Regions from separate parts of the Homo sapiens genome. Here region 2 is linked to region 1. The links come from fine-mapping of genetic effects on gene expression. A gene starts in region 1. The other region holds a variant in brackets. All regions are shown on one strand. Distances are from middle to middle. Region 1 holds the start of GPR180 (G protein-coupled receptor 180). Region 2 overlaps TGDS (TDP-glucose 4,6-dehydratase).

The links. PIP is the estimated chance that this variant, and not a neighbour inherited with it, causes the effect.
Region 2: its variant is fine-mapped to the expression of GPR180 in whole blood (INTERVAL, PIP above 0.99). The same link has a PIP of 0.9 or more in fibroblasts and lymphoblastoid cells.

What each region holds. Positions count from the first base shown.
Region 1 is chr13:94,597,242-94,612,930 of GRCh38, forward strand. GPR180 (G protein-coupled receptor 180) reads left to right here and starts at 4,616. Exons shown (of 9, transcript NM_180989.6): 1 at 4,616-4,831; 2 at 8,150-8,308; 3 at 14,949-15,149. The coding sequence starts at 4,687. It also overlaps the pseudogene NDUFA3P5. RefSeq lists enhancers at 4,354-4,648, 7,004-7,503 and a silencer at 4,427-5,026.
Region 2 is chr13:94,563,757-94,579,445 of GRCh38, forward strand. It overlaps TGDS (TDP-glucose 4,6-dehydratase), which reads right to left. Exons shown (of 12, transcript NM_014305.4): 8 at 14,974-15,017; 9 at 14,249-14,414; 10 at 13,615-13,673; 11 at 12,558-12,655; 12 at 10,298-11,096. The coding sequence ends at 11,026. Among named protein-coding and RNA genes, the nearest start is that of TRF-GAA1-5, 22 kb to the left of the region's middle. The variant T/TC (reference allele first, on the strand shown) is at 6,126.

The sequences.
Region 1 (15,689 bases):
GGTCCTACGCTGATGTCTTATTCTATTCTCTCCTTTGCTCACTCCGCCCCAGCCTCCCCACCCTCCTTGCTCTTCATTCAATGTGCCAGGCATGCTACTTCCCCGGGACCTTGATTGTCTTTCCCCAGATGTCTGCCTAGTTTTTACCCTTACTTCCGTTTTCAGCTTGAATGGCATCCTATTGACCACCACAATTAAAATAGCGAGCTCTGCCCAACCCTGCCGAATCATCTTATCCTTCTTTATTTTTCTTCCTAGCACTCAACATTTACATTGATGTCACTGCCCTCTGTTTAGTGTTCCATGAGGTCAGGGGCTTTGTTTTGTTTTCTGCTGTAATCGCATGTCCTTAGAGACTTGGCACAGAATAAATGACCATTAAATATTGTCGAATAGATAAATATCTTTTTTTCCCCACCATAATGTTTGGCAAAGCTGAAAACGAATGGAAACATCCAGTACAGGTGTATATGTGGAAGAATCATACCACAACCTTTTTACAAGGCAAAGTGGTAAAACATATGAAAATTTCAAATGTTCATATTCTATGACCCCCTCAAATTCCATGATGTATAATATAGATAATTGTTCATTGCTGTATTGCTTGCAATAATGAAACACTGGAAATAATCTAAATGTGTATAATGTCTTCTAACTTTTAAAATGCAGTAAACTGCTATATAGCCTTTAAAAAGAATATACCAACATGGAATGAAGACCAAAATATATTGCAGTCGATACGTACAGTTTTTTTCTGACCAGACTCCTCCCCCCACTGTCCTTTATGATCTCCCCAAGTTGACCCAGGCAGGCCACAGAATGAAATCTGGCTGACTCTAGGCCAACTGAAGCCTCTTCTTGGGATTTAGAATTCGACTAAGGTGCTAGTATAGTCTGGTTACTCTACTTGAACTCTGAGGTCCTACAAAGCTGGAACTTTTTGGTGGCCATGTTCTTTCAAAGTGAGGAGCCAGAAAGCCTGTCTTCACAGTGAGAAAAACAAAGTTGATTGAGAAGAAAGAAAAGATAGGAAAGGCCTAACATTCAAGGCCTGTGTTATGATTTCTCTTCAGGACCAGTTTTATTCCTGTCCTTGGTTTACAAATACCACATATATTTGTGGTATTTGTAATACCACATATATTTGTGGTATTTGTGGCTTACTTGAAAGGATTGACCCTAAACTCTTAAAATAAGTTACCTTTAGGGATGAGATATGGGCAGGGAAAGGAGGAAATGGGGAGTTTAATTTTTACTTTATATACTTTTGTTTTTTTGAGACAGTCTCGCTCTGTTGCCCAGCCTGGAGTGCAGTGCCACAATCTTGACTCACTGCAACCTCTGCTTCCCAGGTTCAAGCGATTCTCCCATCTCAGCCTCCAAGTAGCTGGGATTACAGGCGCATGCTACCACACCTGGCTAGTTTTTGTATTTTTAGTAGAGATGAGTTTTCACCATGTTGGCCAGGCTGGTCTTGAACTCCTGACCTCAGGTGATCCACCCACCTCACTTCCCAAAGTGCTGGGATTACAGACGTGAGCCACTGCGCCCAGCCCACTTTATATACTTTTGACTGTGAATTTTTTTCTGAGACACATGGATTACTTGCATAATAAAGAATCCTTGCAGTTTTTTTTTTTTTTTTTTTTTTTTTTTTTGAGACGGAGTCTCGCTCTGTCGCCCAGGCCGGACTGCGGACTGCAGTGGCGCAATCTCGGCTCACTGCAAGCTCCGCTTCCCGGGTTCACGCCATTCTCCTGCCTCAGCCTCCCCAGTAGCTGGGACTACAGGCGCCCGCCACCGCGCCCGGCTAATTTTTTGTATTTTTAGTAGAGACGGGGTTTCACCTTGTTAGCCAGGATGGTCTCGATCTCCTGACCTCATGATCCACCCGCCTTGGCCTCCCAAAGTGCTGGGATTACAGGCGTGAGCCACCGCGCCCGGCCGCAGTTTTTTTTTAAAAAATCCGAAAATATTAATACTTCCAGCATATTCCTGGTCAGCCAGAAATACTGAAAATGCTGTGTATATGGTAGGAGGTGGTTCCTCAATATTTTTTTTTTCTAAATGATGAGGTCTGTTATGAGAACTTCCTTATATGTTATAGAAGCTTGTTGTTAAATGAAAATAATTTATATACATTTATTCATGAAATAATTTTGAGCTCCTACTTTTGTTACCAGTGGAGGGTCTTGACTGCAAGTTGTCCAGTTTCTTGGCATTTTGAACAAAGAATTGGACAAAATGCACAGCAAAGCAAGGCAAGAATGAAGCAACAAAAGAATGAAGCAACGAAAGAACGAAAGCAGGGATTTATTGAAAATGAAAGTACATGGCCGGGCGTGATGGCTCACACCTGTAATCCCAGCACTTTGGGAGGCCAAGGTGGGTGGATCTCTTGAGGTCAGGAGTTCGAGACCAGCCTGGTCGACATAGTGAAACCCCGTCTCTGCTAAAAATCCAAAATTAGCCAGGTGTGGTGGTGTGCACCTGTAATTCCAGCTGGAAGCTGAGGCAGGAGAATCACTTGAACCTGGGAGGCGGAGGTTGCAGTGAGCCGAGATTGTGCCACTGCACTCCAGCCTGAGTGACAGAGTGATACTCTGTCTCAAAAAAAGAAAATGCAACTACACAGCGCAGAAGGGCCTGGACACATAATCATCTTGGGTCCAAATACTCCCTAGAAGTTTCCCATTGGCCACTTGGAGCTCACCTCATATAAATGAAGTGGTGGCCCCCAATAGGTCTGATTCTTGGGGAAAGCAATGAATCAGAGGCTGAAGTGGAGTTACAAAGGTCACACTCCTGTGCAAACATCTGATTGGTTGCAAAAAGCAATGTTACAGAGTTACAAAGTTGCACTTCTATGCAAACGAAGACTCAGCTGGCAATCAGTCTGACTGGGTAGGGACAGCCAATTTCTTATCTGCCTCACAGAAAAGGTGGGGATTTGCAAAGGGCATAGCCTCTGGTCCTTTTGTTACTTAGGGTGGAAAGTTAGGGTTTTCCTTTAATAGTTCTAGAAAGTCGGTGTAAAAACGCCTTAGGTTCCCTCACCCCAGGCCCTATTCTCCTGCCTCACTTTCATTAAGACAGGTATAGCCAGCAAGGTGGCTTACGCCTGTAATCCCAGCACTTTGGGAGGCCAAGGCGGGCAGATCACCTGAGGTCGGGAGTTTGGGACCAGTCTGATCAACATGGAGAAATCCCATCTCTACTAAAAATAAAAAATTAGTCGGGCATGGTGGCGCATGCCTGCAGTCCCAGCTTCTCGGGAGGCTGAGGTGGGATAATCGCTTGAATCCGGGAGGCAGAGGTTGAGGTGAGCCGAGATCGCGCCATTGCACTCCAGTCTGAGCAACAAGAGTGAAACTCCGTCTCAAAAAAAAAAAAAGTGTAGTCACTGACCAGCTGGAGCTGACAATAGAGGCGGAGATTTCAGACACATGAATGGATACTTACAGTACAGTGCGTGAGTGCTCTGGTAGGGAAGTAAGGGATTCTGGTTCCAGGGGCATCTACTACAGACTTAGGGGTTTGAGAAAGGCTTCTTAAAGTGCCTTGGGAAGGAGGAGTAAAGGAGGAAAAGGAAGGTGAGGAGGTCCAGTGTTGGAATAAGCAGAAGTATTCTAGCCAGAGGGATCAGGGAGTGATATAGGCCTAGAAGGGAGAACTTGGGAGTGTTCAGGAAACCAACGGCGGTAAGGATGGAGATGAGAAAAAACAGACATTTGAGAGTTGAAGAGCCATATTCTAGAGTTTGGGTTGTGTGCTAAAGGCAATTGAGAACCTTTCAAGGCAAGTGCAGCAAATTGTTTCCTACAGCTTTCTGTGGCTGTAGGGTAGAGATGGATTGTAGCCAATTAGAATGAAGACTGTAGAGACGGTCTTTGCCATAGGCCAACAAAGTGATGAACTGAGTAGGACTGTGGCCGCTGCTTCCCACCCTCACCAGAAGAAGGGCTAATCCACACTTGTTATTGAATTGATTGAATTGCGGGGGGGGGGGGGCCTACAATTCCCAGCGGTCTGGTCTGCGGGCGGGGGTGGGGGTGGGGGTAATGTAATTCGAGAAGCCAGAGAACCTAGGAGGGAAAAATCGGCTGGAGATGCCAAGAGAAGGCATGCGTTAAATTGTGGTCATGCGGAGCTAAGTGTCTTTGAGACATTAAATCGGACACGTCCTGTAGGTTATACAGGCGCCAAGGAAGAAAATCTGCATAAGAACACAGTTTTTTCTTTGCGGGAGTTTAACTCTCTCGGCCAGAAACAGTCCTGTCCTGCATTTCTTAAGTTTTTTCCGAATCCCACAAGCCCTTCGAAGGCCCCGCGGACTCGTGCCAGCGCGCCCGCGCATGCTCAGTAGCAAGACGTGCTAGGCAATGAGGAGGGAGATGAGTTTTCCGTAACCTGAAGCAACATCCTCCTGATTCCTCATTAAAGAAAAAGGCGGGAACTAGTCAAAAGCCGGGGACTGATGGGACGCTAGGATCTGCGCGTCCCGCCCATTTCGGCCTCTGACTGGTGAATGTCTTCGGCTTATGGCAGAGGAGCCCGCCTCATTGGCTCTCAGGCTCCAGAGCAGCAGGTCTCCGGCGCCCACCCCGCCTCCCCCAGCTGCCGACGTGGGGCGGGCAGCCGCCGGCGGCTGGGAGCCGAGGCGTCGGTGCAGACCTGGAGACGGGCATGGGGGGGCTGCGGCTGCTGGCTGTGGCCCTCACGTGCTGCTGGTGGCCGCAGGGCAGCCAGGGTAAGACCCTGCGGGGCAGCTTCAGCAGCACCGCGGCCCAGGACGCCCAGGGCCAGCGCATCGGCCACTTCGAGTTCCATGGTAGGTCTGGGGGCGGGGAGGGGGATGAAGGCGCGCTGGCCCATCCCGCCGGCTGAGTCCGCCGGCCGCTCCTCCCGGCCCCTCCCTGCCACGTTGGGCGAGGCCGGCGACTTCCCCAGCCTCACCTGGACCTCCAGCGTTGCAGCAGCTGCCGCGAATGGTGGGATGCGTTCCTTGCCAACCCCGCTGGTGCGGCTTTCCAGCCCCAGGCAGCGGCCTCTCGCCACTAGTGATCGTGTTCCGCACCTGAAAGCTGGTTTCCATTTCCCCAACCCTCCCCTTGGAAGCCAATGTGCAAAAGACTGGTCGGCCGCATCTTTCCAGATCCTTCCCGCAAAGAAGCATATTTGCTCCTTCCTGTCTCGGCCACACTGTGACGGGAGAATTTAACCCTAGAAACTTAAATTTCCTTTTTTTTTTTTTTTTTTTTAAAGACCAATTTCCTGAGACCTACTTGCAACAGAGTGGTTTTGGAAACCAAGTAAAACACTTGATAATGTAGTTGTTATATTGAGCAGTTTGGTTACTTGGCTACTAGGGCAGTAGATTTACTATGGGCAGTAAGGCCTAGAATTAAGCTGATGAAAATGCATTTAAGTAGCATCTTGGAAGCTCCCTAATTTGTGTTCTGTGTGGCTCTTCTGAAATCAGAGTTGCGTTTGATTTCAGACCTTTTGGTCTTCCTCAAAAATCAGTAATTATTCCTTCAATAAATGCATTTGCAATTCATTCTAATTTTGGTCTCATTTGCACTCTCACAATTTAAGTGTTTTTCTTGGTACTCTTAATTTGACTAGTGCTGTATTTCAAATAATTATTTGCCTTGATGACATTAGGAACTTTGATTTGTACAGTCTTTAGCATTAAAAGATGCAACGATGAACATCAGAATATTGGCCTAGAAAATATTGTTAGGAGAAGATAATAGAAACGGAACTACTTTGGTGAGAAAAGGAATTTAAAGTATTGGGAAATTACAGAATTGACAGAATAAAGGGAAGGGATCCTGATTTTTTTTTTTTTTGAAGTTTTTAAGATAGCTAAGAAAAGGAGTTTCAGTAACCCAGTTTTTCAAAATCCAATGTGGAATATATTTTGGGTGAATGAAGAAGAAACACTAGAAACAATTTTATTATTTTTTGTAACATTTTGAGTTTCTCATTCAACGGACTGTAACCATACTTTGAGTATTGACAGCCACTGTCTTAAATGGCACAATGTGGACAGTGTTGGAAAATGTGGGATGTATAGAAGACGTGGGTTATTACTTAGGACCAGCAGAGAGACTTGGACGACCTCATAGTTCCTGATGATCATCTGGTAAACGTGGAGGAGAAACATGTACTAAATTCAGATTTCTCAAGACAGATTGGGGATAAGGTGTTTCAAGTGCGTTCATTCTGTTTCATATGTGTAAAATCACATATAGTTATTACCAATTTTCATGAATCCCAATTCAGTAAAATAATAATACAAAAACTATACTGAAACAATGAACTGTAACTCGGAATGCAATTTACAGTGTCAATTGGGCCTCAGAGTCACTTGTAAGACTTCAAAATATGTAATCAATTTATGTAAGAGACTTGCACATTCTTTGATATATATACTGTATATTTAAATATATTTAAAATGTTTAATCAAAGTGGTAATTATAGTAATAAAAGCATAGAAAAAAAATTTCCAGGAGAATAGAAGATCTTAAAATGAAAAACAGTCTCCTGTCTTAGCTCTTTCACCCAGAATCCCTTTCCCTAGAGGCAATAACTTACTGCCATTTCTGTTCTGGGCCTTAAATGTAGTTGGTGTGTGCAACCAGGTTCATTCTGTATTCATCTTACAACATATATTATTCTGAAAGTTCTTTTTTTTTAAAAAGGAAGCCAGACTCGTTGGGTGGCTCCTGCCTGTAATCCCACCACTTTGGGAGGCAGAGGTGGGCAGATCACTTGAGGTCAGGAGTTCAATACCAACCTGGTGGCTGGGCGTGGTGGCTCACACCTGTAATCCCAGCACTTTGGGAGGCTGAGGTGGGTGGATCACCTGAGGTCAGGAGTTAAAGACCAGCCTAGCCATCATGGTGAAACCCCGTCTCTATAAAAATATAAAAATTAGCCAGGCATGATGGCAGGTGCCTGTAATCCCAGCTATTTTGGGAGGGTGAGGCAGGAGAATCGCTTGAACCGGGGAGGCGGAGGTTGCAGTTAGCTGAGATCGTGCCATTGCACTCCAGCCTGGGCAATAGGGCGAGAATATGTCTCAAAAATAAATTAAAAAAAAAAAAAAAGACCAACCTGGCCAACATGGTGAAACGCTGTCTCTACTAAAAATACAAAAATTAGCTGGATGTGGTGATGCTGGGTGTGGAGGCGCATGCCTGTAATCCCAGCTACTCCTACTCAGGAAGCTGAGGCAGGAGAATCAGGAGAATCGCTTGAACCTGGGAGGTGGAGGTTGCAGTGAGCCGAGATTGCGCCACTGCACTCCAGCCTGAGTGACAGAGTAACACTCTGTCTCAAAAAAAAAAGAGTTTTGCTCTGTCACCCAGACTGGAGTGCAGTGGTGTAATCAAAGCTGACTGCAGCCTCAGACTCCTAGGCTAAAGCCATCCTCCCATCTCAGCCTTCTGAATAGCTGAGACTACAGGCTCAGCCACCAAGCCCAGCTAATTTTTTTTTTTTTTAAATAGCAACAGGATCTCACTTTGTTTCCCAGGCTGGTCTCAAACTCTTGGGCTGGGAATCCACCCACCTTGGCCTTCTAAAGTGCTGGGATTACGGGTGTGGCCACTGTGCCCAGCCCCTGAAAGTTCTTTTGTAAAAGTCGTAGATACCAAATTTTGTTTTAGGTATAATATGTCTACCCCAGAACACATACATTTAAACTTTCCTGCTATTAGCTATGTTTATTTTTTATATTAAGAGTATAATTAAATATTAACACCTATGTCATATTAAAAAACAGAAACTTTGGTGGGACATTTCTATAGATTATGAATAAAATATAAAATGTGAAGTGGTTGTAAAGTGAGGCAAAAATTTTAATACAGTGAATTGTTCAAATACCCCAGATATTGCGGTTTATTGAGTGAAATATCAGTTATCAGCTGAATTTCAAGGAAATACCACACGTTCATTTGAATAATCTCTTGCTTCTGAATGTTGTGTTCATTATGATGTGATTTACCTAGTTAAGCGAGATTTAAGAAGAATTGTGCTTTTTAAATTTCCATTTTGGTAAGTAGAGGTGTTGAGTTGTCCTCATGTCTCAGTTTCATGTAAGACCAAACTAGTTGATGATTTTTGTTTTAATGTCAAGGTGACCATGCTCTTCTGTGTGTCAGAATCAACAACATAGCAGTAGCTGTTGGAAAAGAAGCTAAACTCTACCTGTTCCAAGCCCAGGAATGGCTAAAGCTACAGCAAAGCAGTCATGGTTATAGCTGTAGTGAAAAATTATCCAAAGCTCAGTTGACAAGTGAGTATATCCTTTTTTCTTTGATCATTAGATATAGTTTTTTTCCTCCTAATGTTGAAATATAGTACCATATGTACATATGTTATGTTTCCTGACAGCATAATCCCACTGTGATGACACTTTGTCTAGTACATTTTAAGCTGAGTTTTAACAGTGCCTTTCCCTTTTTATCATTCATCGTTTTTGAAAAAAAAATCCAGATAATTTATATAGGAGTCCTTTCTTTCATTGACTCTTTACAGTTTGCATAATTTATGCCAATATGGAAACTATATTTTGACCCAGTGGCAGCATGGAATGAATGGTAACATTTGTTGAATGCTAATTATCTGCCAGCACTGAGCTAAATGCCAATGTATTATCTTAGTTAATTGGGTAATTTAGCTTGAGTGATGCTGTTTCACAACATGTCATTTGAACATGAGACTTAGTTATATGGTATAAAATATGTCACTTTGACAGCCAGGTGCAGTGGCTCAGGCCTGTAATCTCAGCACTTGGGGAGGCCAAGGTGGGTGGATCACCTGAGGTTGGGAGTTTGAGACCAGCCTGGCCAACATGGTGAAACCCCGTCTCTACTAAAAATACAGAAAAAAATTAGACAGGTGTGATGGCATGCGCCTGTAATCCCAGCTACTTGGCAGGCTGAGGCATGAGAATTGCTTGAACCTGGGAGGCAGAGGTTGCAGTGAGCCAAGATCATACCACTGTACTCCAGCCTGGGCGACAGAGTGAGACTTTGTCTCAAAAAAGTCACTTTGAGATGTACCACCACCACATCATTTGTATACTTCTGGATTTGCCTCTAGAGAGGCTGTACTTTTTAAATCCTAATCTAGTGGCTTAAATCCGTGATCCCATTCATTCTCATCAACATTGTCCTGTGCATTAGGTTGCTAGCCATCCAGAGTGAGTGAAAATTTTTTTAAATACGGAAATGAAGAACATGTGCCATTGTTTCCATTTTGCACCTCGCAAGTTAATTAGGTGTAGAAGACATTAGAAATTTGAAGCATCCATGAGGAAAAATGGGAATTATTCTTCCCTTTTTCCTCTTATTATTCAGGGACTCATCCATATATGGAACATGGTAGTCTCTTCTCTTAGCCTATTCTAGTGAAGCATTCATTTCTAAACATCTGGCTTTTATCTTATCAGCTGTCTGATTCCCTCATAAGGCAACTAGCTAGATCAGTGAAAAGAGCAGAGGTCCCCAGTCCTTGCCACCCATTGTGGGGATCTTTAATGTAGATTTGTGAGATGATATTGTGAGAAGATAGTATCCTAAAGATGAATGACAATTACATACAATTATTTACTTTGACCCTGAATTCAAAACTTATCTGGGAAATACATGCAGATTCTCTTGATTGGTTGTCTCTTCCTTTCTCTGCCAGTTTGCTCATCTAAGTGTTGCACATATGTGTAAAAGGTCATGTCCTTCAGTTCCCAATTCCTCTGGCGTCTAAACTGAACTCACCATCTTCCCCATCCAGACCTGGTCCTCTTCTGATGTTCCCTGTTTTAAGAATTGGCACCACCATCCATCCAGTAAACAGTTGAGAAACCAAGGTGTCTTCTAATACTCCCCTCTTTGACCTTTCTACCCCCTCATACATCAGTTAAGTCTTGAGGTTTTACTTTTAAATATCTCTTGAATTCATCTTGCCTTTGCTATTTCGACAGTCTCCTACGTGGTTATTTTATAGCCATGCTGGTCCCCCTTCTGTAACTAGATCTTTCTAAATAGCAGATTTGGTCATGTTACATTCACTTCTTTACCACACCCTTAAAATAAATGGTTTCCCTTAACCTGACCGGGCCTCCTTAACCTGACCAGCAAAGCCATTGTAGACTGGCTGCTGCTTACCTCTCCGTTTCATCTCAGGGCATTGCCCCACTCACTGCATTTTATTTCAGTGCTACTCTGAGCCTTTGCATAGGCTTTTTCCTCTTCAGCCTCCCCTCTGGCTCCTCCGTCGATTAAGTTAACACCTAAGTTTTTATAGCCTCTTGCTTTCCTGCATAGCACTTACTATAGTTACCACTTTACATTTTATTTATTTGTTATAAAATCAGTCAATGAGAGCAGTAGGGCTCTTCTGGTGTGTTCATTCACTGAGCGCTTCCACTGTTTCATGTACTGCTAGGTACTGTTGATAGATCAGTGACCAAAATGTCCTTAAGGCTGGTGGAGGTGACCAGAATGAATCAGATGAATGTGAATAAATGTAAAATTGCAATTTTGATAAGTACTATGAATGCTAATTATATGGCACTATGAGAATGAGAATTGATGATACCCCGGTGCTTAGTTAAGTTTTTACTAAGTATTTGTAGAATGAATAGTCGTAGACCTTCATGCTTAAGGGCTTGTTGTTTGGCTGGTTGTTAGCTTTTTGTGTTTGGCATCTCAAAGACTTTTTCTATCTCCAACAAAAACTTACTAGGCAGTTTAAAGCTTTGAGCTATAGGAATATTGATTTGTTCTCTTGTATCACATAGTCAGTATTTATATACTTTATACACTTAAAAACCTCATTTTCGTATGAGTCATATTCCTGTATTCCCAGAACTTCTGTATACAGGGAGACAGTGTGGTGCAATGGGAAGACCATAAAACTGAGTATCACTGCTAGTGATTTATAACAAGAACTCGTTATCTTTGAACCTCATTTTACTTATCTGTACAACAAGCAAGTTGGACTAGGTGTCCCTAAGGTTCATGATAGTTCCAAAATGCTGCCATTCTCGTTATAACTCTTAAGGATGGAGTTACTTATGTATAGGACTACAACTTAACAAAACCTTCTGCTGTTGTTTCTTTTTCTAGTTTCTCTTTCTTTTCCCTGTTCTGTTAAGTGCAGAGGTATATTTTGAAATTGTGGAATGGAAGATAACAGGTAACAGGAATTTTAGAGGAATGAAGGTTGTTTTGTCAAATTTTGGGGCTTAAAATAAATTTAATACTGATTTCTACATATATGTACTTCACCAATTTTTTTTTCCAATAACAAAATCCAAATCTTAAGTCTCTAACTTTTATATATTGTCATATTTATGGTATGTTATTTAGGAGCTTAGGTACATTTAAACAAAAAGCATATCCTTAAATTCATGATGTAATAGTAACACATATTTAAGAATAGTTCCTTATAGCAAGTGCTTTTCTTAGCTATTAATGAGACTTAAGAGTTAACAGCCTTTCACCTATTTGGTAATGAACTCAGTAACTCTGCCCAGCTCCTACGTAAAACCTTGCTGCTGCTGTGTACTATGAAAAGACTAGCAGATTAGAAAAATCTTAGTGTTGAATGTTGCTTGACTCTCCCAAATTAATGTTTGAAAAATTATTTTTCAGTCATCTCTTTGTTCTGTCATAAAAATCTGATTTAAAAAATACTAAAAACTATTTTGTAGATTTTTAAAGCAAGCAAACAAGACATTTGAAAGCACTGAAAATGATGAGTTTATGTATTTCTATCTAAAACTTAACGAGGAGATTCGGAGGAATTTTCTATCAGATTACAAGAGCTAAATGTAATATTGTATATAAAACATTTCAGTGTTGTCTTTTTACATATTATGCATATGATTCCTTTTGTAGTTTGGTATATTTTATAAATCATTTAAAGGTGTTAGTATTTTATTGTGTGTTTTGGTTAACAGTATTCAAATCCTTTTATAATATGATTGGATAATTAGCTATTCAACACCATTCTCAGCAGTTCAAGTTTTGTTAATATTTGAGGTACTAATTACACCAGCATAGAATATGCATGCTGTGTTGTAGTCTTTTGTCTCAGAAACAATGAACACACAGTTTTGTCAAGAGGCTTGTTTCCCAGCCTTGCCGAAAAGACAGCAAGACAAAAACTAAAGGCCGGTATCACTTTATGAAGCATACTTTTATTTCTGTTTGAAGTAAATCCACATAATTTAAAATGAAACATCAAAAATATATTGGTAAAAGTGTGGGTTTTTTTTATATTTTATCTAAGAGAAAAAGGGCAAATGATAAAAATGGCAACACAGCAGAGCCTTTATATAATGAGGTCCGGATTATATAATTGCAAATTGCACATTTAAACAGTCTTATTTGTGAATCATTTATTGATCATATATTAAATTCTTACTAAAAGTCTTCCAATATTTAACAGAAACTAGAGTCTTTGCTACATTTTTCCAGAAACTGTATGTGTGTTTTTTTTTTTTTAAAGGTAGTTTAAATGTCAGCTAACTTATAGTAGCCAAAAAGCAATGCCATGGTGGTGGTAATCAGATCCTCTTGTTCAATTTAACCACCAATGAACGAAATTCCCAGTTGTACAGTCCAAGTCCTCAAAATTCAAATCCTGACTACATCTGTATCTCATTCCTAAAGACAACCTATAAATAACATTTTTCCAACTTTCCACTAGGAAAATTTCCCAACATACAGAAAGGTTGAAATTATAGTACAACCAGCATCCATATATCCTCTGCTTAGACTCAATAATTGTTAATATTTTGTTAAATTTGCTTTATGTCTATATGTATGTGATTTTTGTTTTAATTGAACCATGTGAAAATAAGCAGCAGGTATCACAGTTTGCCCCACCATACCTAAGCATACATCTTCTAAGAGTAAAGAAATTCATCTGTTTAACTATCATACACCTAAGAAAATGAGTAATTCTATAATGTCCTCTGAAATCTATTCCATACATACATTTCTAGTTACCTCAAGAAATGTCTTTTATTTATTAAAAATGTTTTTTTCTACAATTGAGAAAAAGATTAAGACTAATTTGTCCTTAAATATTGACATGTTTTGGGTGCAATCTAGAGTTGGGAATTGGGTCCATCATAATACTGTTTTAAAAATACTTTGTGTAGAATCATGCTCTTTCCATATACTTTTCATTTGCCCCTCACAAGAACTCTGCACTAGCAGGGCAGGTATCTTTATTTGACTATTGAAGAAACAAATTTAGAGAGTTTGTAAATTTATTTGCTGAGTCGCAAGGCCAAGACTCGCTCTTCTAACTCTACTCTTTTTGTTACACCCAGAACTTGAGACACTCCTCTCCTAGGCAGCTTCGTGTTAGTGTTAGTCAGTGCCTCTTAGGTCAGGTCAGATTCAGAAACCGCAATTACTTTTGCACCAACCTAATAGTTTTAGGTCCAGAAGGAATCTTAGACATCATTTTGTGTTTCTCAGAAGGGAGTGCCGTTGGCATTTTAGGGGGAATAATTCTTTGCATGAGGTTCAACACAGCCCCCCTCCAAGTATCTAACCAGCTATTGTGACAAAAAACTATCCCCTCACATTTTCAGATGCCCTGGAGGAAAGGAGATTACCCTGGATTGAGAACCACTTACTAATATAACTACCTTGTTTTAAAGAAAGGAAAAGCAGAATTGACATTTAGCAACTACTCTGTGACAGTTACCATGCTAGGTGACTCAAATAACTTAGTGCTTATATCAGCCCTTTGCTGTAGGTAGTATCTTCATTTTACAGATGAAGAAAGTGAGTGTCATTGCTTATGTAACTTACCCAAGGTCACACAACAGGTAAGTATTGAAGCCAGGATTCAAACATACATCTGAATGATGCCACACACCCCCCACCCCTGACTGTATCATACTACTTCATGTGGACCTGATCCAGTATAATAACTTCTGCATTCCTGTAATTTCTATTTTTTCTGCTTTTTGTACACCTTTAAAGAACAACCAATCAGAAAAAGATTTTGGAAAATCTTTTGAAAATACATAGTTTTTAGATATAATGATTTTGTAAGTTGAATGCTCCATTTTAAATTTAACTCGAGTAATCTTCAAAAATGTCACTGTGATTGTTGCACAGCATTGTAGATGTGCTTAATGCCATAGACTGTACACTTAAAAATGGTTAAAATGATACATTTAGCATTGTGTATATTTTACCACAATAATTTTTTTGAATGTCATTAACCAACCCGGAAACTGTGAAAATATCGAAAATCAAAATTCAAAGTTTCAGCCGCCGAGACCAAGATGGTGGCGAGACTTGGCACTTTCCTCAAGAATGCCTGGGCCAGGGAGCCAGTGCTGGTTGTGTCCTTCATCATTGGTAGCCTAGCTGTAATTCTGCCCCCACTCAGCCCCTACACCAAGTACTTCATCATGATCTACGAGACCATGCCCTACAACTACCCATTGCCCGTCCGCAATGATGGGAACATGACCAATGTGCCCGGCCACCCCCAGGATCCCCAGAGCTCCAGCTTGGAGTGGCTGAAGAAACTGAGCACCTCCACTGACAGAGGAGGCCCCTCCCATCGCTCCCAATACGAATGTGAAAACCAAAAAGAAAAAAAAAAAAAAGAATTCAGAGTTTCAGTGAAGCCATTCTACTTGTGGTGTTTTATAGTCATACTTTTATAGTGATTCCTTGGTTAAAAACATCATTTTTATCTCCTTTGCAGATAAATTCTGATTTATTCTATAAATATCTGGTTTACAAGACTTATTCCAAATACTACACAAGGTCTTGGATTTCTGAGACAATAAAAATTAAAAGATTGTCCTAACCTCAAATTGATTATATGACTAAAACAGTGAAACACATTTGAGAATTTTGTTACAAAAGGTGTTTTCTTTCTCTTTAAAGTGACCATGAACCAGACCGAACATAATCTGACAGTGTCCCAGATTCCGTCTCCACAAACGTGGCATGTGTTTTATGCAGACAAGTATACATGCCAAGATGACAAGGAGAATTCTCAGGTGGAAGATATCCCATTTGAAATGGTGTTACTAAACCCAGATGCCGAAGGGAATCCATTTGATCATTTTAGTGCTGGAGAATCTGGTAAGAATATGTATTTGAATATATCCTAAATTCAGGAAAAGATTTATGTACAAATATATTCATGTTGTATTTTTAAAATCAAAAATGAAAGCAACCTGTGTTTCCAAAACTAGAGAAATGGTTAAATTAATCTTCTTATAGCATTTTGATAGCCATCATATTAATTTTTAAAAGCAGAGTATTACTTGAGTGTATTAAAACCTGCAAAGAATAAAACAGAAAGAAGCACAAAAATATTAATAGATTATTTTGATACTCTGGGTTGGTAGAATTGTATAGTTTTGTTTGTTTGCTTGTTTGTTTTGGCTCCAGACAGGAAACAACTTGTGTAGTTTATAGTTTATACATTCTAAACATTTTTGTTTTTATGATAACCTTGCATTATTTTTATAAACAGAAAAATGGTAACAAATTAAACAATTTAAATTGTTAATGATTAAATGAGATTAGAAACTCAGCTACTTTGTATGGGTAACTCTGTACTAGCTTGTTTGAACAGATTTAGGGATTGCCTTCATTGAAGCTTACAACAATTTAGGG
Region 2 (15,689 bases), 33 kb before region 1:
TTTTAAAATGACTTCCACACTAAGCTCAATCATTTCTAGCTTTTGATTTAAAGTGAGAGATGTGTAACTCTTTATTTGAACACTTAGAGGCCATTGTAGAGTTTTTGTTTGTTTGTTTTTCAGAGAAAGAGTCTTGCTCTGTCGCCCAGGCTGAAGTGTAGTGGCGCCATCTCGGCTCATTGCAACCTCTGCCTCTTGGGTTCAAGCAACTCTTGTGCCTCAGCCTCCCAAGTAGCTGGAATTACAGGCGCGCCATCACTCCTGGCTAATTTTTTTTTTTTCTTGAGATGGAGTTTTTGCTCTTGTCACCCAGGCTGGAGGGCAGTGACATGATCTCGGCTCACTGCAACCTCCGTCTCCCGGGTACAAGCGATTCTCCTGCCTCAGCCTCCCAAGTAGCTAGGATTACAGGCACCTGCCACCATGCCCAGCTAATTTTTGTATTTTGAGTAGAGATGGGGTTTCACCATGTTGGCCAGGCTGGTCTCGAACTCCTGACCTCAGGTGATCCATCTGCCTTGGCCTCCCAAAGTGCTGGGATTACAGGTGTGAGCCACCGTGCCCAGCTCATTGTACGGTTATTAACTGGACTAATTTCAATATTGTCTCAGGGGATACAAAGGCCCCGAAAGAGGGAGAGAGATGGGAGAAAGGCCTAGCAGTGGAGCAGACATAACATACAACATTTATCAATTAAGTTGGCCATCTTACATGGGCATGATATGCGGTGCCCCCAAACAATTATACTAGTAACATCAAAGGTCACTGATCACAGACCACCATAACAGATATAATAATGAAAAAGTTTGAAATGTTATAAGAATTGCCAAAATGTAACAGAGATAAGAAGTAAGCACATGCAGTTGGAAAAATGCCACCGATAGACTTGCTCGACTCAGAGTTGCCACAAATCTTGAATTTATACAAAATATAATTATCTGCGAAGCACAATAACGTGAAGCACAATAAAATGAGATATGCCTGTCGTTTGGAGCCAAGAGAAAAAGATGAAGACCTAGAATTGCTTCTTTTGCTCTTCAAAATCGACTTAAGTAGAGAAAACACAAGGGGGCTTCGACTTCCTAAATTTGGGATAGAATGGTTACATTGGTAAAATATAACATTTTCCATCACCCGGTAACACTATTTTTAAGAGTATGCCAATTAAAACATAGTGGGTTTAGCTATAAAACACAACAGTATTAAAAATACTATTAAAGCTAAGGACGGATCCTAGAAAAATCATTCAAGGTTAGAAGTTTCTATAAAGAAGCACCAAAGTGAGAATTAAAGATCAGTCTTTCTAAACAACAACAAAATATAAGTGAAATCAGATATAAGACTTGCAAAACTGGTTCACCTCTTTCTTAAAGTGTGAGATTTGAGCAAGAAAGTGAGCTTTATGTAGTCAAATGGTGTTTGACTACAAATCGTAAAAATGCAAGAGATTCTGCCTGGGGTGAGGAGGGAGGGGGAAATGTGTGTGTGAGGAGGAAGGGGGAGAGAGAGGGAGAGAGAAATTGAGAGACAGACAGACAGTGGCAAAGACTCTGCTCTTTAAAAAACCTGCAAATGAATAGAGATGCTGAGTGTCCAGGGAGGTGATTACACCCCCAGGAGCTCCGTGTTTAGTGGAACACACACACCTATAAACAAATTGTATGAGTACAGTGTGATGGTAATATAGATGGCAGAACTTCAACATCTGCAGGTGAGGTCAAAGAGAGGCTCAAGCTAGCTAAAGATTCTAGAAGTGCAATAAAACAATTTTTGCATCTTTCGTACTGGCAAAAATTAAAGGTCTATTAATACCCATGGCTTGCTAGAGTGCAGGAATTTCATCTCTATCTTTCAAATTTTAAGTGCATGTGCTTTTGGACCCAGATATACCAAATCTAGGCATTAATCCTTCAGAAATACACGCTCCTGTGTACACGCAGGTGTATATTGAGATGGTCAATGCAGCATTTTTTCAATAGTTGTAACAGTATAAATTCATGGCCTTCAAACATGGCTGCACCTTCACTGGGCGGTGGTAGAGCTGCTGCTCTCATTTTCCTCTGAGACACTACAAAACTCACTTCTCTCCTGTTGCCTTCCCGACTTTCAGGAAGAAAATTGAGGCCACAGTGAATTCCCTCTCGTCCCTCCCCAAAAGTCACTGTATCCAATCTCATCTCAGCTCCTGTCATTACTAATCCAGAAAGATGAGATCAACCCTATCCCAAAGTGAGTCTTTCCCTAGGGAGCCCATCTCCATGGACACTGTACTCCATTCATTATGCACTCCTGAATATCATTTATCTTTCTTCATTTATTGCTCATCTCTTCAGCTTATAATTATACAGAAGTCCTTTCTGTGCTAAAAACAAAACAAAGCAGCTTCTGAAGACCTTTCCTTAAGCCTGTGCCTTCCTTAGGGCTGGCCCTATCTTGACTCTTCTCAGCTCATTGAAAGGCTAAATTCCATTTTTCCATCCCTTGATTCCTAATTACTACTCAATCTTCATAATCCAGAGGTTCTCTCCCTCTCCCCACACTAGAAAATTTGCCTGCACATTGCCAAAAACCAGTGGACACTTCTTAGTCTTTGCCTTACTGAACTTCAGCTGGCCATCTGCTGGTTATTGAATGTCTCTCCCTTTTGCTTTGGTGGCGTTATTTCTTCCTTTCTTCCACTCCTCTGACTATTCCTTTTTTTTTTTTTTTTTTTGAGGCAGAGTCTCACCTTGTTGCCCAGGCTGGAGTGCAATGGCGCAATCTTGGCTCACTGCAACCTCTGCCTCCCGGGTTCACACAATTCTCCTGCCTCAGCCTCCTGAGTAGCTGGGATTACAGGTGCCCAACACTACACCCAGCTATTTTTTTTGTATTTTTAGCAGAGACAGGGTTTCACCATGTTGGCCAGGCTGGTCTCAAACTGCTGACCTCATGATCCACCCGCCTTGGCCTCCCAAAGTGCTGGGATTACAGGCGTGAGCCATCGCTCCCCGCCCATTCCTTCTTTTTTATTTCAAAATTGATTGATTGATGGATTGATTTTTAAGGCTAGTCAAGTGAAGCAGTGGGAGTAATTTTTTTTTTTTTTTGAGTCAGAGTTTCGCTCTTGTTGCTCAGGCTGGAGTCCAATGGCACGATCTCGGCTCACTGCAACCTCCCGCTCCTGGGTTCAAGCAATTCTCCTGCCTCAGCCTCCCAAGTAGCTGGGATTACAGGCATGTGCCACCACGCCCAGCTAATTTTTGTATTTTTTTTAGTAGAGACAGGGTCTCTCTATGTTGGTCAGGCCGGTCTCAAACCCCTGACCTCAGGTGATCTGCCCACCTCAGCCTTCCAAAGTGCTGGGATTACAGGCATGAGCCACCGCACCTGGCCCATAATTTTGTTTTTTAACCATTCCTTCCTAATTTCCTTGGGCTGCTTGCCTGCAACTTACATATTAGTGTTTCTCATGGCTTGTCTGTAAATCATTCCACCCACCATCAACACTGTCATTTTGTATACTTTCCTTGGGGGGGGGGGGATTTAATCTACTTTCAGATGTTAACAGTCATTTAACTCCCAAATATGTATGTCTAGATCTTGAGCCCTGACCACCAATCTGAGCTTCAGATTCACATACTTGCCTGTTCACCAGGTATCTCCACTTAACATGTTCCACAGACCCTTAAAGCTCAACATCTCTCCAAGCTCAACATCTCCTAATTGTAATCCACCATTCTCCACTCTTTCCAATTCAACACTGAAAACCTTAAAATACCACTCATGTCAAAAAACAGCTCCTCCAATGTATCATCAATCAGTAAGTTTTTAAATCTAAAACGTTCTCATGTCTGTCCCAGACTTTCCCTTCCCTGTTTGCGGTGCTGTGCTTTAGGCCTTATCATCGCCAGCCTGATTTACTGCAACAGCTTCATAACTTCAATCCCTGCAGGAACTCATTCTTGTCTTCCTTAAATTCGTCTTCCATGCTATTGCCAGAAAAAGCTATCAAAAACATAATTCTGCAGTCAATAAAAATGGCAAAAGATCTCATAATATGCAAAAACATTCATGATATACTGCTGCATGAAAAAAACCAGGCTCCACAACAGTATGTCCATTATGATCCTCTACTTGGTTTTTAAAATGTATGTATATATGCACAAAAAATTAAATTACATACATCAAAATATTAACAGGAATTATCTTCCAGTGTTAGATTATGGGTGATTTTCTTTTATTGATTAGTTTTCCAAGTTTTCTATAATAAGCATATTATTTTTGAAACTAGGAAAAAGATAAATCCTGTAAATCTAACCATGTCAATTTCTTCCTTAAAATCCAGAATTAGCTCTTGGCTGGTAGGATAAAGTCCAAGCATCTTACCATGGCAGACAAGGCCCTCCATGACCTGGCTACCACATTCCTCTCCAGCCTCACCTCCCCATCTCACATTATGGAACAGTGGCTTTCAAACATTAGGGGGCTTCTGAATTACTGGGCCCCACTCTCAGGGCTTCTGATTCTGTAAGTCTGGGAATTTGTATTTCTAACAAGGTCCCAGGTGATGTGAATGCTGTCTGTCCAGGGCCACATTTAAAAAAATCATTATTATGGCAAAATATACATAATGTAAAAGCCATGTTCAACCATTTTTAAGCGTACAATTCAGGGGCATTAGGTAGACTCAATGTTGTACAGCCATCACCATTATCTGGTTTCAGGACTTTTTTCATCATCTAAACAGAAACTCTGTACACATTAAACAATACCTCCTCCCTCCCTCCTCCCTCAAGCCACTGGTAAACCTCTGATACTGTGTCAATTTGCCTACTCCAGGAACCTCATTTGAGTGGAACCATACCACTTTTGTCCTTTTGTGTCTTCAAGGGTTATCCATGTTGCAGCATGTGTCAGAATTCCACTCCTTTTTCAGGCTGAATAATATTCCACTGCATAAGCCATTTTGTTTTATCCATTTATCTGTTGATGGACATTTGTGTTGTTTCCACCTTCTGGCTATTGCGAATACTACTGCCATGAGCATTGGTGTGCAGGTATATTAGCCTCTGCCTTCAATTCTTTTGGATATACCCCTAGAAGTGGAATTGCTGGATCATATTATAACTCTATGTTTAACTTTCTGAGGAACCACCATATTGTTTTCCAGAGGCTGCGTCATTTCACATTCCCGGCAGCAATGCACCACGGTCCCAATTTCTCTACATCCTCATTGACAGGGTGTTGTTTTAAAAAATAATAGCCATCCTGATGAGTGTCAGGTGATATCTCATTATAGTTTTGATTTCCTTAATGAAATGGAGACACGTTTTGAGAATGACTATGCTAGAGTAAAACTGATGGCGTATTGTTTCCTGAACACACAGCACTATTTAAAACTTGGTGCTTTCACTCTGATGATCCCTCTGCCTGGAATCATCCTGTTTCCTCACTAACTCCCATTCATTAAGTCACAGCTCAAATGTCATCTCCAATGAGCCTTCTAGGAACCTCCAGATTGGGTAAGCTGACCTCACAGAACCTGGAAGCAACTGGGGCAGTGGAAGGCGGAGGTAAGGGAGGTAGGCGAGGGTAAGGCATTGGATAAAAAGCAAGTGGCGCAGCTGGGCGCGATGGCTCACGCCTGTAATCCCAGCACTTTGGGAGGTGGGCGGATCACGAGGTCAAGAGATCGCGAGCATCCTGGCTAACACAGCGAAACCCCCATCTCTACTAAAAATACAAAACATTAGCTGGGCGTGGTGGTACGTGCCTGTAGTCCCAGCTACTTGGGAGGCTGAGGTTGCAGTGAGCCAAGATTGCACCACGGCACTCCAGCCTGGGTGATGGAGTGAGACTCTATCTAACAAACAAACAAAACCAAGTGGTTTGGTTGAAAGTCTGTATAGAGAGCAATTAAACTCCAAGACCCCCTCCTCCCCTACAAATGGCAATTATCAAGGTCTACCATTTGGATTTCCCTTTAAGAAAAAGCTTGCCATTCAGCTGGCAAGAGTGCAGTTAGCCAGCAGCTTCCACTTGCAATGCCTTCGGGATCCACCTGGTCGTTTCTAAGTAGCCCCTGGCCAATGGCTGAGCACAATAGGGAACCCAGCCATTTCTGCCCAGGTGGGGCTTTTTTT[T/TC]CAGGAGATTTTGCTCTGCAGATCCCTGTTGAGCTGGATGAGATTCTGAAGCCCACTCTGCCAACCCTCTTCCTCACCCCTTCCTTTTCACAGATGTCTGATCTACGCTGCAGCCTGAAGATTTCTTCTGCCCAATTATGCATCCTCCCTTTTGTATCTTTCACAAGCATTAACTCCCTATCCTATTAATAAACTGCTAGCACCTCTAATTTGGCCTCAGCCACTACTTCCCAGAGGACCCAAATGACACAGTCACTTCTAAGAGTGGTCTAACAAAACAGTTGATAAGATGGGTTTAGACTGGATCACTTTCTGCCTGTCTGGTCATAAGAATACCATCCTGGGTGAGGCAGGGGGCATACACAGTCCCTAGCATAAGGTAGTGATGCAGTTGCTAAAACTTTCATGTTGGTGACTTGGGGGGAATGTTCTTTGGAAGGGGACCACCCTGCCCTGCTTACTGCAATAATTCAGGCACTTGAAAAGCTCAGGAGAACACGTCTTACAAGGGCAGTGGAATTGTTGGTCTTTAATAAGTTGTACTGATGTCCTCCAGAAGGGTAATGAAAAGCTAAGAACAAGAAATAAGTGACAACTAAGTGTGAGGGCCTTATCATGAGGTAGGAGAATAGAAGAAGCCCAAGACCAAACTCAGTATTTAATAGTTTAAAAGCTGCAGACATCTTTAAAGGAATCCACTCAGACAGTCTCATCTTTGTGTCAGGGTCCTAGATTTTCCCAACCAGCACCCTAACCTTGGCTGAAGCAAACTTAACAAACCTACCTCAGCTGGGCCTCTGGCCTGGCTGAGATAGTAAATCAAAAACAAAATCACAGCTGGGAGCAGTGATCGCATGAGAACTTACTATCGCGAAGACAGTGTCAAGAAGCCAAGAGGGATTCGCCGCCATGACCCAATACTTTAGAACCAAGGCAGGAGGATCACTTGGGTGCAGGAGTTCGAGACCAGCCTGGGCAACATAGTGAGACCCTCGTCTCAATTTAAAACACAAAATCACACCTTGGAGGAGGTGAAGATGATGCCACCCTTGAGGATCTCAAGGTTACAGAGAGGCCCCCACCAAAGCTCCGTTTAATTCACCAGTCTGGCCACTGCTAGAACTGGGTAGATCCTGGTGAAATGACTGCAGTCAAGGCCAGCTCAATTAAGGAGCAGCTCTGCTGTAAAGAAATACCTGCGACTGGGTAATTTATAAGAAAAGAGGTTTAATTGGCTCACGGTTCTGCAGGCTGTACAATCATGGCGCTGACATCCCTTGGCTTCTGGGGAGGCCTCAGGGAGCTTTTACCCATGCCGGAAGGCAAATTGGGAGCAGGCACATTACACAGTGAAAGCAGGAGCAAGAGAGAGAGGCAGTAGCGGGGATGGAGGGTAGGTGTCTCACACTTTTAAACAACCAGATCTCACAAGGACTTACTATCTTGAAGACAATGTCAAGCATGAGGGATTCTCCTCCATGACCCAAACACCCCCCACCAGGCCCTACCTGCAGCACTAGGGATTACAATGCAACATGAGATTTGCACGGGGACAAATATCCAAACTTATATACCAGGTTCTGATGGCAGCTGCTGTGCTTATGTGGCATCTTCTTTGCTGAAGTGGATTAGAAGGACCCTGGAACATAGTATCCAGCCACTGATTTGCTGTATGTGTTCTTTTCCATCTCAACCATGATGATCAGAAACCAGGAGCATTTGCAGTTTCACCTTAGGGCTATGTAAGTTCTGCTCTCCTAAGAGACTTGGGTGTCCTGAACATCCTGTAGAATGTCACAGTGATCTATCACATTGATGGTGTCATGCTGATCAGGCAGAATTAGCAAAGGTGGCTAGCACCCTGATGGCTTTGGTAATTCACATTCACCCCAGAAGGTGGGAGATAAAATCTGATGAAGATTCAAGGACTTGTGATTTCAGTAAAGTTTTTAGGAGTCAAACAATCAAGGTGTGCCAGGACATGCCCTCCAAGTAAAAGTCAAACTGCTTTATCTTATATCCCCTTCCTCAGAGAAGGAAACACAGAGTGTGGCTTTGGGTTCTGGAGGGAACACATTCCACACTTAGGGATACTGCTCCAGCTTATATACTGAGCGACAGAAAAGGCTGCCAGCTTTGAGGGGTCTGGGGCGGGAAAGAGGTCTGCAGCAGGTCCAAGCTGGGGTGTAAGCATTCCTGCCACTTGGGCTATATGATGTGGTAAACCCTATGGTGTTGGTGGTGTCAGTGGTAGAGACAGATGTAGTGTGGGTTTTATGGTGAGCCCCAGTGGAGAATAACTATGCAGGTCCCATGGTTACACCTGGGAAAGACCATTTCAGGCTCAGTGGAGAATCATGCCTTTGGAAAATAAATTACTGTGCCATGGTAGACCCAGAATACTTGACGACAAGACACCAAATGACCATGCATCTAGAACTGCCCATATGTACTAAGTTCACTTGGACCCACTGTTAAGGGCTGAAATGTGTCTCCCCCAAATTCTTATGTTGAAGTACTAACCCCTGGTACCTCAGAAAGTGACTATACTTAGAAACAAAGTTTTTAAAGAGGTATATTAAAATGAGATCTTTAAAATACACTCTAATCCAGTATGACTGGTGTCTTTATAAGAAGAGAAAATTTAGACACAGAGTAAAGATCACATAAGGACAGATGATGGCCACCTGCAAGCCAAGAGAGGCCTCGGAAGAAACCATCCCTGCCAACACCTTGATCCTGACCTTGGACTTCTAGCTTCCAGATCTGTGAGAAAATTAATTTATGTTGTAGAAGCTACCCAGTCTCTGATATTCTGTTATGGCAGTTCTAGCAGAGTAATGTGCCCACCCACTCAGAGTCAGGTGGAGCCAGCAGCAGTCCACTGGAAGATGGAAATGGCACATCTGGGATCGAGCATGAGCAGAATGGGAGAGCACAGGTAAGTTGTAAGAGCAGGTAGGCCAGACTCCCATGTCACCACCTTAGTTCTTTATACCTGTGGCCATATAGAGGGTCCCATACAACCAACTGAAAGGAGAAAAAAAGTTGATCTTAGTTTATAGATGGATTGGCCTGTTCTGTGGGTGCAAGCCAAAAATGGAGGGTGGTTGCCTGAAAACCATGCAGGGGTGGCCTTAAAAAGAATGTGGAAAGAGAAAACCTTTCCAAGAAAAAAGCTTCGAGTAGTATCCCTGCTCATGCACTATGTATAGTAGTGACCTGTGGTGAGAATATACATTTAGTCATGACCAGTAGCCTGGCTAGCTACTTTGGGGCTTAGAAGGAAAAAGTCTAGAGGAGCAGGAAACAAGGAAGTAAAGGTTGGAGAAGCGTGGATAGGCCTATCTATGGGAGAGGGTGGGGAGTGTGAAGATCTGTGTATTCCATGTTAACACTCACTAGAAAGCAACCACCATAGCAAGAGGCACTGAACCACCCAGTAGATAAAATGACTTGGTCAGTTAACTTTAGCCAGCTTTCATCATCAGCCACCCCAGAACTACCATGATGGGCACCTGAATGGAATAGGCCTCACTGTACAGATGGTCCCTACTCTTGGGACCCACAGCATGAATTCTCACTTACCACAGCCAATGTAGCTATTGTCACCTGTGAATATCCAACCTGCTGGCAATAGAGACAAATACTGAGCCCCCAATATGGCACTATTCTTCAAGGAAACCCACCAGCTACCTGGTGGGACATGAACTCCATTGGGCCCTTTCCACTGTGAAAGGGCTAGTAGCTGATTCTCACAATAGACATTTTCTCCACATGGGTTGGGTTTGCCTTTCTGCCCGCACAGCCTGCCCAATTTTGCTTCCTCCTTCTTTTATCGTTATAGTCATTACTTTCTCTCTGCATCTGCTTCCTGTAAGACTCAACTGACACACCTGTCTTCCCTCTCTTTCTCTCCAGAAAGGGGAAATTGGAGAAATTGAATAGAAGAGGTATGGACTCAGGGATCCCTAAGCACAGTGGGAGGCTGGTATTTAAGGGTATTTTTAAAGTATAAGACTTTCTAATGAGGAATTATGATGCCTCCATACCAAAATCTGCATTCTTAATAGAGGGCCACCCAGTTTCTTTTCCCTTTCTCAACCCAATAGCCAATCAGTTACTTTTTCAAGTCTTCTTAAAGTCTTTAGGGCAAAGAAGGATTAAAAATATATAATCAAATTTTTTTTTATTTTTCTACAGCAAAATAAAAACATTATTTTAAAAAGCAATATTCTACATTAAATACATTAAGATATTGACAATTTTATAAATACAATCATTTTAAACAGTAAACATGATAAATTTCTGATACAAGGTTTTACATACGTTAATTGTGAAAATATAAAAACTTTACACACTTCTCTTAAAAAGCATTCAACGTAATCAATTTTACAAAATTATCAATTTAAAAAGTGTTAGATATGCTTCTATTTTGTTCCATTATTAAGGCAATGATAGCATATCAGATCTTAAAAAAGAAATGGTGAATTAGGGCCTAAGACATCCTATATTGCCTAAAAACGAACATTTCAGAGACTTTCTTAGGCACTGAGTTCAAAACCAGTGAAGGTTGCCTTCTCCCTAGCACCACTACCCCTCATGGTTGTCCGAATCAGGAGACTTCTTCCTGGCTACCCTTAGGGAGAGTCTTCTACACCTATTATTTCCTAGTTTCTAGGAGAAAGGGTTTCAGAAAGAATTTTGACATTTAAATTCTATGCCAGTACTGAAACTCTCCCAAAGATTGAGGCATTCTGCATTTGAATTTTATACAGAAAGTCATGAATCTAATTCCAAAAGAAAAGAGTGCACTTCATTTGGTCACTTAATTTCATACCACTTGGCGAGGTAGGATAACTTTCTTCTTTGACAACTGTCTCGACTATATAAATGGTGATTATACCGGAAAGGGTTCTAATGCCTTTTCCACATTCTTCCAGTTGTGAAAATTCTCTCTGTACCATTCAACTAATAGGAAAAAACAAAAGACAAAAAAAAAAAAGAAAAGAAAGAAAAACTAAACATCAGTTAACCAACCTTTACTGAGTTCCTGCTAGCTAAGTCTTGCCCATCAGCTAAGCAGCAGACAAGGGCTGACTAATGATGTAAACAATTTGATTTTGAACTTAACAATGAAGTCAATCAGAAGACATTTAAATCACCTAAAAAATTTATGATTAAAAATCAACTATTTTTTTCTTCTTAACTTCTAAAGTCATTCAATACTGAACTTGGTATAAATATTTAAGATTCTGATTTTAAGGAATTTGGGGTGTGGGAAATAAGTCATCTGCCCTGGTTTTAAGGTTATTTTATATAAAAAAGTATAATACAGTGTTTAGTCGTATAAATATGGTAACACTGCATGAGAGGCACAATGAGTTGATGTGAACTTCCTTGCTTTTTTTTTTTTTTTTTTTTTAAAGAGATGGGGTCTCGCTGTCACCCAGACTAGAGTGTAGTGGTGCAATCGTAGTTCACTATAGGCCCAAACTCCTGGGCTCAAGAGATCCTCCTACCTCACCCTCCTAAATAGCTAGGACTACAGGCATGTGCCACCATGCCCCGCTGATTTTTTTACTTTTTGTAGAGACAGGGTCTCGCTATATTTCCCAGGCTGGTCCTGAACTCCTGACCTCAAGTGATCCTCCCACTTTGGTCTCCAAAGTGCTGGGATTACAGATGTGAGCCACTATGCCCAGCACCTTCCTTCTATTAATATGTGAAATTATTTTATATTGCTATACTATCAGTAAAAGCTTTTTTAGTTTAAAGAAATCTGATAGTTTTAAATTATTTTTTGTTTCTTAATATTTGACTTAAGTATTTGTATTTCAAGCTCTGAATCAAAACTTTTTTTTCTACATCTGGGTAGAGCTTTTCTCATGAATACATTTCTAAATACAGCTTTAACATGTATACACAGACTTTATATGCACTTATTTTAATAGATTTTTCTGCACATACTAAATTTATTTCCTCTGTTGGTTTCAATATAAAAAGCCTCAAGACACAAAAAAGACTGCATCTATATTTCACCAACTCTAAGATGCCACTGATGGATCATTATTTTACATACATGTAAAAAAGAAAAAAGCTACAATAATAATTATAAGACACCAGTGATTATAAAAATACATACCTTTTAGGAGTGTGAAGAAAGTGAAAAAATATGTACCTCAGAATAAATAATACAGGTATTTGATTAATGCTAACAAGATATGGGAAGATTGATCAGAGGTTGGTTTATAAAATTCAAGATGCTTAGGAAACACAGGACTGCTACTAGAAATATATGAAATGTGGCAATTTGAAAAGTACGAATGATTCAACACAATATTCCACTGGTTTGTATAATGTTCTGGAAATAAGTTATTTTTCCTTTAAATTTTTCTGACTTGCCCCCAAAATGATTAATTCAAAACATACTTGTTTTCTTTATTCCTTCTTTCCAAGGCACTTTAGGTCTCCATCCTAAGCCATGTATTTTTTCTGACTTCATTGGGTATCTCATGTCATTGGTGGGTCTTGGAAAACAAAACAGATTTAAAATAATATTGTAGATATATATTTACAAATTTAGATATTAGGAGATATGTGTTTATGCATTTTTACCACAACCCAACTTTTCTCTTTACAAAAATTCCCAATAGGTTTTCTGCAGAAAGTCTGTAAAATCAAGTATATATTTAAAAAAAAAAAGTCACCCATAATGCCAGGTGCCTAACCCTCTCTGTGTCTTGTCTTCTTGTTTCAGCCACGATCTAGATATAAGTGAAGTACCTGACACATCCAAAAAACTCAACAAATGTTCAATGACTAAATAAACAAATACACAAAAACTTATTAGAACTCATATGCCAGGCTGTGGGTCAGGTATTTCATACACATTATAAATAAGTGTTAGAATACTTTTATAAGAAAGATGTTATTATTGGCCAGGCAAGGTGGCTCATGCCTGTAATCCCAGCACTTTCAGAGGCCAAGGAGGGCGGATCACGAGGTTAAGAGATCGAGACAATCCTGGCCAACATGGTGCAAACCCGTCTCTACTAAAAATACGAAAATTAGCTGGGTGTAGTGGCGTGTGCCTGTAGTCCCAGCTACTCGGGAGGCTGAGGCAGGAGAACTGCTTGAACCTGGGAAGGCAGAGATTGCAGTGAGCCGAGATTGCGCCACTGCACTCCAGCCTGGCAACAGAGCGAGATTCTGTCTCCAAAAAAAAAAAAAAAGATGTTATTATCCCTATTTCACACTGGAGGTTTGAAACTTCAGACTTAGAAAGGGTCAATAGTTTTTTAAGTCACATAGCTAGTAAGTAATAATGCTATACTTAATTTGTATGGTACTTACGATTATGAAAAAAATGTTTTACCAGAAAATTCAAAACAGATAAACTAGTTATTGGTCAAGTCCACATATTTTATAATTTTATAAGTACCTAAGATTTCACAACCTTTCCCCAAGGTTTTAACTTGTTACTCACCTATCATTAACATAATCAACCCAATTTTCCATTTCAGACTCTGAATTGGTCTCTTTGATCTGTCAAAATGGAAAAAGCTTTTGAGTCAAATTATAAAATGAGATCAGAGAATAACAATAGTATTTAATGGCTGATTAAAAAGAAAACAACTGCCTCATAGCAGGGAAGACAGCTAAAATGAACATCATTTTAGTAACACTTTCTATACTTTATAACCTAAATTCCATCTGAAGCTCAGATATACACATTGGATTTTGGTTATTATTCAGTTCCTCTTTCTATTAAACTAAGATTTAAAATTGATGTCCCCTAATATACATGGACATTCATAACTACTAATGTAATTATTTTATATATCACTGTTACTTGTTTTAAGACAATTTTATATTTCTGCAAATGACTTATGCAGAAATATAATTAGGGAATGCACATTTAGTGAATTATTTTTTCCTGAAAAGCTGTTACTAAATAGGTGATCCAACTTAATTTAAGACACATATGGTACACAAAATCATTAATTTCATTTTCTACTTGCTTACTTTTAAATTAAGTAAGCTGTATGCTTCTGATTTTGACTAATGGTCACTGCCACTAACAATTTTGAAAATACCAACCTTTTAAAACAGATACATACCAGTTGTATTAGTTCTTTGGCAAGCTGGACAACTGACATTTCAAAATTGGTTCCGATGTTATAAATTTCACCTGGTTTCCCTTTTTTGAGGACAGTGAGAAATGCTTCTACAACATCAGTAGCATAAAGGAAGTTTCTTGTTTGAAGCCCTGACCCATGAATGCAACTAAAGAGATTAAACGAAGTGAAATCATAAAGTGTAAAAAGGTAAACTCTCCTAAAGCATTGACTGGGTACTACAACTCCAGAGAAGCTAATTCCCATGGGGATCCCAGAATCTTTACTGAAAATACAAATTCTCGTAGCTTTTCTAAATTTTGTTCATATTTCTTAATCTCCAAACCTTCTGAGGGGACTCAGTAGGAAAGTGACCCCTGTGAAATGTGTATTCAATTTTATGTCATAAGTTCATTTTAAAGAAATATCTACAGTTCTATGAATTAAATAAGTCCTTTGAGAAAGTAAAATTATATAAAAATAGATTTCAAATTTTAATGCTATAATTCAAAGTTCTATGATAGGTCATTAAGATCTGAAATTATCTCAACAATTATAAAAATAAGATACAGATTATTTTAAAAACTATTACACTGGAGAAATGATTCTTAAATTTAGTGGGGCATTCAATTCTATGGCCTTTAAGACTTTATGATATTTAAGAAAGTGTCACCAAATACTCTAACATACCAGAAAAGCATATGGGTAAAAAGGTAATAATAACATACCATTTCCTGTTGTGCTGTAGCAAAGATATAAATTTTGGAATAACCTAAAAGAATATTTAAATATCATTTCAGACTGGATATTTACTCATTAGTATGAATCTGAACTCATACCAAAATTAAAAGATTATTAAGAAATATGCATATGGATTGCTTCTAATTATTTTTATCAGTTTATTAAAAAACCTACTATAGTATTTGATATGTAAAAGAACTCCTAGTTTGCTATTTCATAAAGACAGGTTACTTGAAGATAAAATGATCTAAATAGGGGAAAAATGCAGAAAAAGTCTTCATCAGACAGTTGGTCTCATCATAAAGCTCACCTGTGTGCTGACTTCATAAGGGCAGATATTTGTATCTTACTTATTGCTTTACATATAGCACCTATGCATTAAGTGCTTCAGGAATTTATAGAAAGTAAATTCCAGTGCTCTTGGATTCAAAGAAAACTTAAATTAAGCAAAGTAAATATTAATACCTGCAGGTCATGACATGGCCCTTTCCTTTGGGCAAACAGATCAATGCAACCAGCTGGGAAGCAAGAAAACCCAGTCTCCAAATTTAGGCAGAGTAGCCAAAGTTATATAAAATCAGGCTTGATGATATAGAGCCAATTGCACAGGCATTTTCAGCCTCTAAACTACATTTTTTATTCATTACTTGTAGTACTTTCTGGAAGATATTCGTGCCTACACAATAAAGATGAGTTGAGGCAC